Linked DNA regions of Homo sapiens. The gene in region 2 interacts genetically with the main gene of each other region. Each region holds a gene or a part of one and is shown on either strand. Other genes may lie near its edges.

What was found.
Region 1: changes in ARID1A (region 2) and PRUNE1 together harm fitness more than expected from each alone (negative genetic interaction), as found in Homo sapiens cells (one large-scale study listed by BioGRID).
Region 3: changes in ARID1A (region 2) and PHB1 together harm fitness more than expected from each alone (negative genetic interaction), as found in Homo sapiens cells (one large-scale study listed by BioGRID).
Region 4: changes in ARID1A (region 2) and CARNS1 together harm fitness more than expected from each alone (negative genetic interaction), as found in Homo sapiens cells (one large-scale study listed by BioGRID).

The regions. Positions count from the first base shown.
Region 1 is NC_000001.11:151,018,449-151,021,948, forward strand, and holds part of PRUNE1 (exopolyphosphatase PRUNE1), read left to right. Parts: intron 1-18; coding exon 19-221; intron 222-3,500. UniProt on the Homo sapiens protein: Phosphodiesterase (PDE) that has higher activity toward cAMP than cGMP, as substrate. Plays a role in cell proliferation, migration and differentiation, and acts as a negative regulator of NME1. Plays a role in the regulation of neurogenesis.
Region 2 is NC_000001.11:26,776,015-26,779,309, reverse strand, and holds part of ARID1A (AT-rich interactive domain-containing protein 1A), read right to left. Parts: intron 288-3,295; coding exon 1-287. UniProt on the Homo sapiens protein: Involved in transcriptional activation and repression of select genes by chromatin remodeling (alteration of DNA-nucleosome topology).
Region 3 is NC_000017.11:49,408,383-49,411,882, reverse strand, and holds part of PHB1 (prohibitin 1), read left to right. Parts: intron 1-43; coding exon 44-205; intron 206-2,409; coding exon 2,410-2,552; intron 2,553-2,724; coding exon 2,725-2,841; intron 2,842-3,500.
Region 4 is NC_000011.10:67,418,678-67,422,177, forward strand, and holds part of CARNS1 (carnosine synthase 1), read left to right. Parts: intron 1-78; coding exon 79-566; intron 567-809; coding exon 810-984; intron 985-1,075; coding exon 1,076-1,161; intron 1,162-1,931; coding exon 1,932-2,163; intron 2,164-2,261; coding exon 2,262-2,542; intron 2,543-3,500. UniProt on the Homo sapiens protein: Catalyzes the synthesis of carnosine and homocarnosine. Carnosine is synthesized more efficiently than homocarnosine.

The sequences.
Region 1 (3,500 bases), about 120 Mb from region 2:
TTTCACTTTCCTATCTAGACAACTGAGGCTGAGGAAGTCTTTGTGCCAGTTTTAAATATAAAACGTTCTGAACTACCTCTGCGAGGTGACATTGTCTTCTTTCTTCAGAAGGTTCATATTCCAGAGAGTATCTTGATTTTTCGGGATGAGATTGACCTCCATGCATTATACCAGGCTGGCCAACTCACCCTCATCCTTGTCGACCATCATATCTTATCCAAGTAAGCACAAGGAAATTAAATTGCTACCTATCATGTACCATGCTGGGCTCTGATGAGTGAGATATAAAGAGAGGAAGAAAGAGTTTTTGCTGGCTGGGCATGGTGGCTCATGCCTGTAATCCCAGCACTTTGGGAGGCCAAGGCGGGCGGATCACCTGAGATCAGGATTTTGAGACCAGCCTGGACAACATGGCAAAACCCCGTCTCTACTAAAAATATAAAAATTAGCTGGGCGTGGTGGCAAGTGCCTGTAATCCCAGCTACTTGGGAGGCTGAGGCGGGAGAATCACTTGAACCTGGAAGGTGGTGGTTGCAGTGAGCCGAGATCGTGCCACTGCACTCCAGCCTGAGCGACAGAGCCAGACTCCGTCTCAAAAAAGAAAGAGTTTTTGCTTTCAGGGATCTCATAGGCTAATCATAATTGATAGGTCATATTAGATATAGAAAAACAACACAAAATATTGTCAGTTCTGCAGTTATATGTATGTCTGTGGCATATAGACATACCCTATAATAAAAAGAAATAGAACGTGTTGAGTTCAAACTAAAGGGTAACTCAAAAATCATTTAAATCTGCCTTTGGTATCATTATTTAAGATTTTGTGTGCCGGGTGTGATGGCTCACGCCTGTAATCTCAGCACTTTGGGAGGCCAAGGCAGCCAGATCCATTAAGCTCCAGGAGTTCAAGACCCGCCTGAGCAACATGGCAAAACCATGTCTTTACAAAAAATTTTTAAAAATTAGGCACGGTGGTGCATGCCTATGGTCCCAGCTACTCGGGAGGTTGAGGTGGGAGGATCACTTGAGCCCAGGAGGTCGAATCTGCAGTGAGCCAAGATCACACCACTCCACTCCAAGCCTGGGAGACAGAGGGAGACCCTGTCTCAAAAAAAAAAAAAAAAAAGATTCTGAGACAGATTTATTGTAATAGAAACCTTTGAAAAATGTTTGCAATTCTCTTTTTATTTTTTTACTTATTATTTATTTTTGTACTTACTTATTAAATTTTTTTTAGAGAAGAGGGTCTTGCTATATTGCCCAGGCGGATCTCAAATTCCTAGGCTCATGCTATCTTCCTGCCTCTGCCTCCCTAAGTGCTGGTTTATAGGTGTGAGCCACCACACCTGGCCTGCAACTCTATTTTTAATTTTAATTTTAATTAATTATTTTTTTTTGAGATGGAGTCTTGCTCTGTCACCCAGGCTTCAGTGCAGTGGTGTGATCTCGGCTCACTGCAACAACCTCTGCCTCCTGGGTTCAAGCGATTCTCCCTGCCTCAGTCTCCTGAGTAGCTGGGATTACAGGTGCGCGCCACCATGCCCAGCTAATTTTTATATTTTTTACTGGAGACAGGGTTTTGCGCTGTTGGCCAGGCTGGCCTGGAACTCCTGACCTCAGATGATCTGCCCACTTTGGCCTCCCAAAGTGGTGGGATTACAGGCGTGAGCCACCACACCTGGCCTATTTTTAATTTTTAAAAAGTGGCCTGGTGTGGTGGCTCACGCCTGTAATCCCAGCACTTAGGGAGACCTGTCTGACCACTATAGCGAGACCCTGTTCTCTAAAAAAAAATAATAAATACAAAAATCTATAAACATAGTGTGACCTTGTCTCTACTAAAAATAAAAAAATTTGCCAGGTGTGGTAGTGCATGCCTGTAGTCCCAGCTACTTAGGAGGCTGCTGAGGTGGTAGGATCACTTGAGCCTAGGAATTGAGGCTTCAGTAAGCCATGATCACATCACTGTACTCCAGCCTGAGTGACAGGGCAAGAACTTGTCTCCAAAAAAATTTTTTTAAGTTATCAAAAGGGCCAGGTGTGGTGGCTCACACCTGTAAACCCAGCACTTTGGGAGGGTGAAACAGGAGGGTTGCTTGAGCCCAGGAGTTCAAGACCAGCTTGGGCAAGATGGTGAGATCCCATCTCTACAAAAAAATTTAAAAGCACACAAAAAGTTAGCAAAAGTTTTTCTACATAAACTCTTACGATTTTAGAATAATGTATTATGTTAGAATATATAAATATCTCAGGCCAGGCGCGGTGGCTCATGCCTGTAATCCCAGCACTTTGGGAGGCTGAGGGGGGCGGATCATGAGGTCAGGAGATGGAGACCATCCTGGCTAACATGGTGAAAACCCGTCTCTACTAAAAAATACAAAAAATTAGCCGGGCATGGTGGCGGACGCCGATAGTCCCAGCTACTCGGGAGTCTGAGGTAGGAGAATGGCATGAACCCGGGAGGCGGAGCTTTCAGTGAGCTGAGATCATGCCACTTGCACTCCAGCCTGGGCGACAGAGCAAGACTCCATCTTAAAAAAAAAAAAAAATAGCTGGGCGTGGTGGCTCGCGCCTGTAAGTCCCAGCTACTTGGGAGGCTGAGGCAGGAGAATCGCTTGAACCTAGGAGGTGGAGGTTGCAGTGAGCCAAGATCGCGCCACTGCGCTCCAGTCTGAGCGACAGAGTGATGCTCTGTCTCAAAAAAAAAAAAAAAAAAATTAGCCAGGCCGGGCGTGGTGGCTCACGCCTGTAATCCCAGCACTTTGGGAGGCTGAGGCGGGCAGAATCACCTGAGGTCAGGAGTTTGAGACCAGCCTGACCAACATGGAGAAACCCCATCTCTACTAAAAATACAAAATTAGCCAGGCGTGGTGGCACATGCCTGTAATCCCAGCTACTCAGGAGGCTGAGGCAGGAGAATTGCTTGAACATGGGAGCCAGAGGTTGCGGTGAGCCGAGATCATGCCATCGCACTCCAGCCTGTGCAACAAGAGCGAAACTCCGTCTCAAAAAAAAATTTTTTTTAATCTATAAATATCTCAATAATGTCTGTTTAACAAATGTACACATTTATAATAATTCCATCCCTAATTTACTACTGGAAAAAACTACCAAAAAAGCAACACGATTATGTGACTTTCCTAAGTCTGTTTGGCTCCTGCTAATATTTTTTTCTTGAGCACATTGTGGTTATAGCAGGATACTGACAGAAGGCAGCCTGAGAGAGCATTATCCATCTATGGATTCATTCAGTAATAAACTTTCCTTTTTTTTTCTTTTTTTTTTTTGAGACAGAGTTTTCTCTTGTTGCCTAGGTTGGAGTGCAATAGTGCAATCTAGGCTCACTGCAACCTCCGCCTCCCGGGATAATTTTGTGTGTGTGTGTGTGTGTGTGTTTTTAGTAGAGATGGGGCTTCACCATGTTGGTCAGGCTGGTCTTCAACTCCTGACCTCAGGTGATCCGCCCACCTCGGACTCCCAAAGTGCTGGGATTACAGGTA
Region 2 (3,295 bases):
TTCTCCTCACTATTCTCTGAAGCTGGCTTGTCCTTGCCTGAAAAGGCTATCTCCTCATCATTTTCAACTACTTCCTCTTCTTCTTCCTCTTCTAGTTTAGGACCTAGAAGTTCTTCTTCTTCTTCCCCACCCTCCATGGGAGCTGGACTAGACACCTTGCTGAACCTCCCAGGATCCAGTAGCGTTCTCTGTCCTGGGTCACCCACCTCATACTCCTTTAAAATGCCAAAGATCTCAATCAGGCATCGTCGGAAATATTCTACAAGGAGCTCTAGCAACCCTGGGAGCTAAAAAGAGAAAGAACAGGAAATAAATTAAGGGAGAAAAGTGGCCTAAGAACAGAATTATTGACTTGAGAGACCTCCCCAAGTCTTCTGTATCAGTTGGGAGAGGCAGAGTTGCTCCTTTCCCAAAGGTTCTCCACAGAGCAAATTGTTCATCTTAATCTCTTCTATGCCCAACACAAAGTTCTTTCTTCTGCCCAACCTACCTTCACGTAAGCCTATCTCCAGGAACACTAGCCAACAGCTTTGCACCTCACCCACCAGGGCCAATCATCTCTTAGCCTTCTCTTTTCCCAATTAATCTTCTGCTTTTCTTCACCAGGCCAGTTTTCAACCTGGTGGTCATTGCCATTATCTCTTTTAGGACACTCTCTCCATCTCACTGCCAAGTGGAACCCAAGCTTAGGCATGGTGACTTAAGCTAAGAGAAGAGAATGCCATGTGGGCAGATGTTCATGGCTCTCTTCTCCAAGCTCCCCACAAGTCCAGGGGGCTGGAACTCCATGGATCTTGCAGCATAAGGAGTGGGACGAGGCTTCAGCTCTCCAAACACTGGTCCAAGCTGGTGCTACAGAGACCCAAATTCCACCTTGGATAATATATAGGCCATTTATTTACCTCTAGAAGAAAACACTCCTCTCCAGTCACAATCTTTGGCTGAACAGTAGAGCAGATGGAAAAAAAAATAAGGGCTTTCGAATTAGATCTAGGGGCTGGAAGCAGTGGCTCACACCTGTAATCCCAACACTTTTTTTTTTTTTTGAGATGAAGTCTCACTCTGTCATCCAGGCTGGAGTACAGTGGTGTGATCTCAGTTGGCTGCAGCCTCCGCCTCCTGGGTTCAAGCGATTTTTCTCCTGCCTTAGCCTCCCAAGTAGCTGGGATTACAGGCGCCTGCCACCACATCGGGCTAGTGTGTGAGAGTGTGTGTGTGTGTATTTTTTTTTTTTTTTTTTTGAGACAGAGTCCCGCTCTGTTGCCCAGGCTGGAGTGCAGTGGCACGATCTCAGCTCACTGCAACCTCTGCCTCCTGGGTTCAAAGTGATTCTTCTGCCTCTGCCTCCCAAGTAGCTGGGATTAGAGGTGTGTGCCACCAGGCCCGGCTAATTTTTATATTTTTGGTGGAGATGGAGTTTCACCATATTGGCCAGGATGGTCTTGAACTCCTAACCTCAAGTGATCCACCCACCTTGGCCTCCCAAAGTGCTAGGATTACTGGCGTGAGCCACTGCGCCCAGCCTAATTTTTATAGTTTTAGTAGAGATGGAGTTTCACCATGTTGGCCAGCTGGCCTCAAACTCCTGACCTCAAATGATCCTCCTGCCTCGGCCTCCTGAAGTGCTGGGATTACAGGCGTGAGCCACTGCACCCAGCCAGTAATCCCAACACTTTGGAAGGTTGAAGTGGGAGAATCACTTGAGCCTAGGAGTTTGAGACCAGCCTGGGCAACACAGTGAGACCCTGCCTCTATAAAAAAATAAAGAAGTTATCCGGGGCCTGGAACGGTGGCTCACACCTGTAATCCTAGTACTTTGAGAGGCTGAGGTAGGTCAATCACTTGAGCCCAGGAGTTTGAAATCAGCCTGGGCAACATGGTGAAGCCTCATCTCTCAAAAAAAAAAAAAAAAAAAATTAGCTGAGCATGAGCATGTTTGCACGCACCTGTAGTCCCAGCCACTTGGGAAGCTGAGGTGGGAGGATCACCTGAGCCTCGGAAGTTGAGACTGCAGTGAGCTGTGATTGCACCACTGCACTCTAGCTTGAGTAATGGAGACCCTGTCTCAAAATAAATAAATAGCTGGACATGGTGGCATTTGCCTGTAGTCCCAGCTACTCAGGAGACTGAGGCAAGAGGATCGCTTGAGCCCAGGAGTTTGAGGCTGCAGTGAGCCATGAGGGCACTACTACACTCCAGCCTAGGTGCCAGAGTCTCTTAAAAAAAAAATTCTGGCTTTTCCAGGAAGTAGCTGTATAAAATGATAAAAATTCCTAAACTTTACAGGGTTGTTCTGAGGTGTAAATGGGAGATGTCAAATACCTGGCATATGAAAATTGCTCTATCAAAATTTTTCCTTTCTCATGGTAGGCAATATTATGCAATGGAAATAAAATCAGGCTTAGGAATCAGATAGATTCTACTGACAGCTATGTGAACCTCAACAAGGATAAGACTGAGCCTATTTACTCATCCCTAAATGGCCATACCTCCTACCTCTGAGGGCTGTTGCTAGGATGACATGAAACAAAATATTAAGGACCTGGCACAAAATAAGAGCACGATAAATGGTAACTATTAATAAGTCAGCTCCTTGATATACAGGTTGGTAGGTACTAAAGATGATCAAAAGAAAAAGAGTAGGATGATGCAGCACAAACTCTTTCCAGCACCTCCACTAGTGTGCACATCCTATGGAGGGTGGGTCTGAAGAATCAGCTTTGTAAGAATATTGTAGGGCCGGGCGCGGTTGCTCACGCCTGTAATCCCAGCACTTTGGGAGGCTGAGGCGGCTGGATCACGAGGTCAGGAGATCGAGACCATCCTGGCTAACACGGTGAAACCCCGTCTCTACTAAAAATACAAAAAATTAGCCGAGCGTGGTGGCGGGCGCCTGTAGTCCCAGCTACTTGGGAGGCTGAGGCAGGAGAATGGCATGTACCCAGGAGGCGGAAGTTGCAGTGAGCTGTGATAGCGCCACTGCACTCCAGCCTGGGCGACAGAGAGACTCAGTCAAAAAAAAAAAAAAAAGAATATTGTTAAACAATCAAATCCCCCATCCACTCTACATCTAAGGAAAACTGGGATCAACAAAGGCCCCTACTGTTCAGAGAAGAAAGGGAAAAATGGAAAAAACATACTCTGCTCACTGATAAAAATTTGACCACAGATTCAGGCTGGGCCTGGTGGCTCATGCCTGTAATCCTAGCACTTTGGGAGGATCACTTGAACTCAGGAGTTCATGAACCTCGGCAACATAGTGAGACCTCGTCTCTATTAAAAAAACAAAAAAACA
Region 3 (3,500 bases), on a different chromosome or scaffold from region 2:
GATGAGAGGATTTTTATGACATGTCATTGTCCTTTCTTCCTAGTGGATGCTGGGCACAGAGCTGTCATCTTTGACCGATTCCGTGGAGTGCAGGACATTGTGGTAGGGGAAGGGACTCATTTTCTCATCCCGTGGGTACAGAAACCAATTATCTTTGACTGCCGTTCTCGACCACGTAATGTGCCAGTCATCACTGGTAGCAAAGGTGAGTCTTGCCTATGGTTCAGGTAAAGTAGGGAGTGTGGAAGAGGTGCTCTGTTCTTCTGTGTCACAGGAGCATCTGTGGGATACCAGGATCCAAAAGAGTTTGAACTGTACATCATAGGAATGACTAGACTACTTGCCCTGGAGAGCTTGATATGGAATCTTAGAAATACCCACTTATGGCTGGGTGCGGTGGTTCATGCCTGTAATCCCAGCACTTTGGGAGGCTGAGGCAGGTGGATCACCTGAGGTCAGGAGTTCAAGACCAGCCTGGCCAATGTGGTGAAACCCCATCTCTCCTAAAAATACAAAAATTAGCCGGTGGTGGGGGGTGCCTGTAATCCCAGCTACTTGAGAGGCTGAGGCAGGAGAATTGCTTGAGCCTGGGGGGCGGAGGTTGCAGTGAGCTAAGATTGTGCCACTTCACTGCAGCCTGGGCAACAGAGTGAGACTCTGTCTCAAAAAAAAAAAAAAAAAAAGCCTGCTTCTAATCTTCCCATCTCTTTGGAATTTCTTTCCGTACTGTTTTGCAGTTGTTTTCAGGATACATTATGTACCTATTTCTAAAACTATTGATAGGAGCTTCCAGAGATCAGGGAGTTGTAGGTATTAATACATTGCCCACCTCTCTTGGTGCCCAGTTCAGGGCTGTCTCATGGGCGCTTGGTCCATATTGTTGACATCTGTAAGCAAGCCGTGACAGTGCTTTGGCTCCAGGCAGGCCTGAATTGTCCAGGGGAAAGTATAATTCTCTCCCTGGATCCTTTAAATGGTCCAAGTAATGAGAAGCAGAACATAGGATCAGTCTGTTAACCCCTTATATGTGTTACACATTTGACAGAGTGCTTTTACGTCTGTTTTCTCCTTCAATTTTCCCCAACATTTCCGCAAGGCCCAGAAAGCAAATGAAATTGTCCCCATTCTCATAGACAGGGAAATAAGCTCAGGTTGGCTAAGGCTTAGAGAGGCCACATCATTAGTAAATAGCCCAGATCTTTGGACTGATAGTCTAACACCGTTTCCACCAGACCCGAACTAACCTCTCCAAGGCTGACTCCTGACTTGGCCACAATCACCAGAGCATGTAAAGGCCTCACCCTACAATTCTTAGCATTGCCCTGTCTATTGTCTTAAAATGTTCAGTGTTGCAAACTTTGCATGGCACCTGTTAGACATATAATCTGAATTATGTATATCTGAGGGCATTCAGGGGATACCAAAAAGCTGCTATCACTGAAGCCTCTTAAGAAATTATAAACTCTTTATGATGCTCTATTGGGTTCTCTGCCAAGGAAACCAGGCATACCTGCACCTTGCCCTCTGGGATCTTATAATCAGCAGATTTGCTTATAAATTGTAGCAAATTTGGAGCCAGGCACAGTGGTGCGTGTCAGCTACTCAAGAGGCTGAGGCAGGAGAAATGCTTAAGCTCAGGAGCTTGAGTCTAGCCTGGGCCACATAGCAAGACCTTGTCTCTAAAAATAAAAAATAAAAATTGCCAGGCGTAATGGCTCACACCTGTAATTCTAGCATTTTGGGAGGCTGAGGCAGTTGGATCACTTGAGCCCAGGAGTTTGAGACCAGCCTGGGAAATATGGCGAAACCCCAGCTCTACAAAAAGTACAGAGATTAGCTGGGCGTGGTGGTCTGTGCCTGTGTAGTCCCAGCTACTTGGAAGGTGTAGGTGGGAGGATCAACTGAGCCCAGGAGGTCAAAGCGGCTACAGTGAGCTGTGATCTTACCACTGCACTTCAGCCTGGGCAACATGTGACCCTGTCTCAAAATACATAAATAAAAATTGTAGCAAATTGGAGTAGGAGAGGTCATATAAAAGACCACTTGTGGCCAGGTGCGGTGGCTCACACCTGTAATCCCAGCACTTTGGGAGGCTGAGGCAGGTAGATCACCTGAGGTCAGGAGTTTGAGACCAGCCTAACATGGTGACACCCTGTCTCTACTAAAAATACAAAACAGCTGGGTGTGGCGGCGCGTGCCTGTAATCCCAGCTACTCAGGAGGCTGAGGCAGGAGAATTGCTTGAATCTGGGAGGCAGAGGTTGTAGTGAGCCGAGATTGTCCCATTGTACTCCAGCCTAGGCAACAAGAGCAAAAACCTGTCTCAAAAAAAAAAAAAAACAAAAAAAAAACACTTGTTTTCCTACAGTGGTTTTTATTTTTAACTCCAGTGTTTGTCCCCTACCCTAAGATTTACAGAATGTCAACATCACACTGCGCATCCTCTTCCGGCCTGTCGCCAGCCAGCTTCCTCGCATCTTCACCAGCATCGGAGAGGACTATGATGAGCGTGTGCTGCCGTCCATCACAACTGAGATCCTCAAGTCAGTGGTGGTGAGTGAACAGGGGCCTTTAGCCTCGAGCCCAGAGCACCACCCTGGGAGGGTGCCAGGTGGCAGGAAGCGCTTGGCAGTGGGTTGGTTGGGATGTGGCTGCTAGTTTCCTGGTTCCTTTTCTGCTTCCTCATTAACCTGACCTGCCCTTCTGCTCCTCCCTTTGAAACCAGGCTCGCTTTGATGCTGGAGAACTAATCACCCAGAGAGAGCTGGTCTCCAGGCAGGTGAGCGACGACCTTACAGAGCGAGCCGCCACCTTTGGGCTCATCCTGGATGACGTGTCCTTGGTAAGATCCTTCGGGAGACCGAGGAGGGGAAGGGGCTGCAGTTCTCGTTTAGGTGCCTGGCTCCATTTCTGGGTAGACGCTATTAGGTCCTCCCTTCTGCTTTGCTAGATGTGAGACTTGAAAACACGGAAACATGCTGAGGTGAGGCAGTCTCCGTGGGTTTTTCAGTTGAGGGTTCTTTTACCTTCCCCCTGCCACACACATTTTTCTTATGACCTCTGGTTGTATCCAGATAGTCTCTAACCACTAAATGTTTTACCTTCTCCAAACTGTTACCCAGAGAGTGATGCCTTGTTAACCCTGTTTGACACAGGCAGAAACTGCCTGGTAGAGACCAGAGAACAGCTCGGGTAGTCCTTCTCCCTAGCACAGACCTCCCAGCCTGACTCCTGGGAGCTTCCTAACACTTTACAGTCCGAAGCTCAGTGAAGTAAGCTCTGGGAACCCCAGTGAAAGGTGATAGAGTGTAAACGAACGGTTGGATTCCCCCAGGCCTGGTATAGGGGGCAAGGGACATCTCTGAGGCGTAAGCTATCCTCTTGAGACACTATAGCTTGTGTGTTTATATGACATTGGATGTCATAACTCAGAAAGCAATGCAGGCAGGATAGCGTTTCAGGTTGAGGAGGGTGAGGGGAAGGGGTCGTGTTTCTAGATTC
Region 4 (3,500 bases), on a different chromosome or scaffold from region 2:
TTCCACTCCGCTACCCGGGGGCCCGGGCATAGGGCATCAAGCCTTCCCTGGCCAGCCACTTGCCTTCTCTGCCCACAGGAAACATGCTCCTTTGCCTGTCCCCTGCTTGGCTGATGAAGGTGCCAGCACCCGGGCAGCCGGGTGAGGCAGCCCTGCTAGTCTCCAAGGCTGTGAGCTTCCACCCTGGGGGCCTGACATTCCTGGATGACTTTGTCCCCCCGCGCCGTGCCACCTACTTTTTGGCAGGCCTGGGCCTGGGGCCTGGCCGGGGCCGAGAGGCAGCAGAACTCGCCCGTGACCTGACCTGCCCCACAGGAGCTTCGGCTGAGCTGGCCCGGCTGCTGGAGGACCGGCTGCTGACAAGGCAGTTGCTGGCCCAGCAGGGTGGTGTGGCTGTGCCAGCAACCCTGGCTTTCACCTACAAGCCGCCGGGGCTGCTGCGGGGAGGGGATGCCAGCCTAGGGCTACGGCTGGTGGAGCTGAGTGGCAAAGAGGGCCAGGAGACGCTGGTGAAAGAGGAAGTGGAGGCTTTTCTGCGCTCCGAGGCCCTGGGTGATATCCTGCAGGTAACAGACTCTCGCCCACCCTGAGGTCTGTACAGATGCCAGCAGGATGGGACCCAGGCACGGTTACCAAGTCTGGCTGGAAAGGTGTCCCTACCTCTTAGCCCTGCCGCTGCCCTGCCCCATCTCTGGGGCAATCCCCTGCCCTTTTGCCTCAGTTTACTCACCGGCTCCTGTGGCGGAAGTGCCCCACCCTGCAGTACCTGGGGTGGTGTCCAGGAGGCCCCTTTCCCCTCCTTGCTGCAGGTAGCTGTGAAGCTCAGTGGCTGGCGCTGGCGGGGGCGGCAGGCATGGCGTCTGCACCCGCGGGCAGAGCTGGGTGCAGTGGTGGACACAGTGCTGGCGCTGCTGGAGAAGCTGGAGGAGGAGGAGAGTGTCCTGGTGGAGGCTGTGTACCCACCTGCCCAGCTGCCCTGCTCAGGTGAGAGCCACCTGGGCTGACCAGGGATGGGAGTTTGGTGTGGCCTTCTGGCCACTCTGTGCTGGCCTTAGACCTCCCCGTCTTCCCCCAGATGGTCCTTCACCCGGCCCCGGCCTGGCCGTGCGAATCTGTGCTGTGGTGTGTCGGACACAGGGTGATAGGCCACTGCTGAGCAAGGTGAGCGTGGCCCAGGCCCAGGCTGTGACCCTGCCTGCCACACGCCAGCCCAGTCCCAGTAGTGGTTTGCCAAGGGCCCCTGAGCCGTCTCTGGGCAGAGAGGACAAAATCCTTAGGGGGGTCGTAGTTGCCTCTGGGGAAACTACTGGGTCTGACCGTCTTCCCTCTCCTGCAACCCTTCCAGAATCCCTCCCACACCAAGAGCCCCTGCCCCTGTGCTCAGCCCCACGCTGGGTAGTACCAGGGCCCAGGGGGCTGAATTGTCTTCCCAGAGAGCTCTTGCCCACGTAGAGGCTGACCCAGGGCCTCCTGATAAACCTCTAGTGCCTGGACGCCTTCAGGAGGGGCCTCTAAGCTGGAGAGTCAGGAAGGCTTACGGACCCTCCTGAGTACCCCGCTCTAGGCTACACTGAGAGGGAGAGATTCGACCCTGCCCTCAGGGAGCTCCAGTGGGGTAGGGAAAGGTGCGCCCCAGGGAGATGCTAGGGTGGGGCACACCAGGGTGGCCCAGGCCCCCAGGGCTGCAGGAGCCATCCTGGAGGGGGACCCCAGCTGGGCCTGGAAGCCTGGGTAGGTAGAATCCCTGGAGAGGTCTGGGGACCAGATGGGGAGTGGCAGGGAGAGCTCGTGTGCAATTTAAGACACGTTGGAGGACGGGGCTTCTTGAATGTCCAGTGAGGGGTCTGGTCTGAATTTTGGCACAAGGCGGTGGGGGTGTGCGTGGGGGGCAGGGAGTGTGTGGGCCTCCCCCTGAGTCTCCCCCTGCCCAGGTGGTGTGCGGCGTGGGCCGCGGGGACCGCCCTCTACGGCACCACAACTCCCTGCCGAGGACGCTGGAGGTGGCGCTGGCCCAGTGCGGCCTGGGCGAGGAGGCGCAGGTGGCGGCTGTGCGGCAGCGCGTCAAGGCGGCGGCCGAGGCCGCGCTGGCCGCCGTGCTGGCTCTGGAGGCCGGCCTGAGTGCCGAGCAGCGCGGCGGGCGCCGGGCGCACACGGACTTCCTGGGTGAGTGAGGGCGGCCGGGGCCGGGGCCGGGAGCCGAGGGCCAGGGGCTGGAGGGCGGTGGCTGCCGTAGCTGAGCTCGCGCCTCCCGCCCGGCGCAGGCGTGGATTTCGCGCTGACAGCGGCCGGCGGCGTGCTGACCCCAGTGGCCCTGGAGCTGAACGGCGGCCTGTGTCTGGAGGCGTGCGGCGCGCTGGAGGGGCTGTGGGCCGCGCCGCGGCTGGGGCCGGCGGCCGACGAGGCGGTGGCGGCGCCGCTGGTGGAGACCATGCTTCGGCGGTCGGCGCGCTGCCTCATGGAGGGAAAACAGCTGCTGGTGGTCGGCGCTGGCGGCGTCAGCAAGAAGTTCGTGTGGGAGGCGGCGCGCGACTACGGGCTCCAGGTGGGCGGGGCGCGGGGCGGGGCTGGGCCCCAGGTCCTGGCCCGAGTGGTGGAGGCGGGACCCCGGGGCGGGGCCTGGAGCAAAGGGGCGTCCTTGGGGCGGGACCAGCCGCGCTAGAGGCGGTGCTTGGGCGGGGCATCCTGGCCAGGTACAAGTAAGCCCAGGAGTAAGGGCGGAGTCCGCCGCCCGGTGAGGGTGAGGGGACTCCGCTAGTTCTGGAGTGAGAGGCCCTGGGGAGGGCAGGGAGTCCTCCACAGAAAGAGGAGAGGAGCCCGGGTAGATGGGCTGGGCGAGGGACAGCGTTAGCGCCAGAGTGGGGGCCTTGAATGCCAGGCTAAGGAGCCTGGCTCTGTCTTGGGGAAAGGGCGGGCCCTTTGAGGTTGAATTCCTGACACTTGGCACCCAGGACCCGCAGAGGGTGCTGGGGAACCGCATACAGATCCTGAATCAAGTTCATAGCAGGGCATCACTTTACAGAATCTGGAGCGAGCCAGGCAGGTAGACTTGTTTTTGTTTTTTCTTTTTTGAGACAGGGTCTCAATCTGTTGACCAGACTGGAGTGCGGTGGTGCGATCACAGCTCACTGCAGCCTCGACTTCCTGGGCTGAAGCGATCCTCCCACCTCAGCCTCCCTAGTAGCTGAGACTACAGGCACGTGCCACCATGCCCAGCTAATTTTTTTTTTTTGAAACGGAGTCTTGCTCTGTCGCCCAGGCTGGGTGCAGTGGCGTGATCTCGGCTCACTGCAACCTCCCGGGTTCACGCCATTCTCCTGCCTCAGGCTCCCGAGTACCTGGGACTACAGGCGCCCGCCACCACGCCTGGCTAACTTTTAGTAGAGATGGGGTTTCACCATGTTAGCCAGGATGGTCTCGATCTCCTGACCTCGTGATCCACCCGCCTCAGCCTCCCAAAGTGCTGGGATTACAGGCGTGAGCCACCGCGCCCGGCCTTTTTT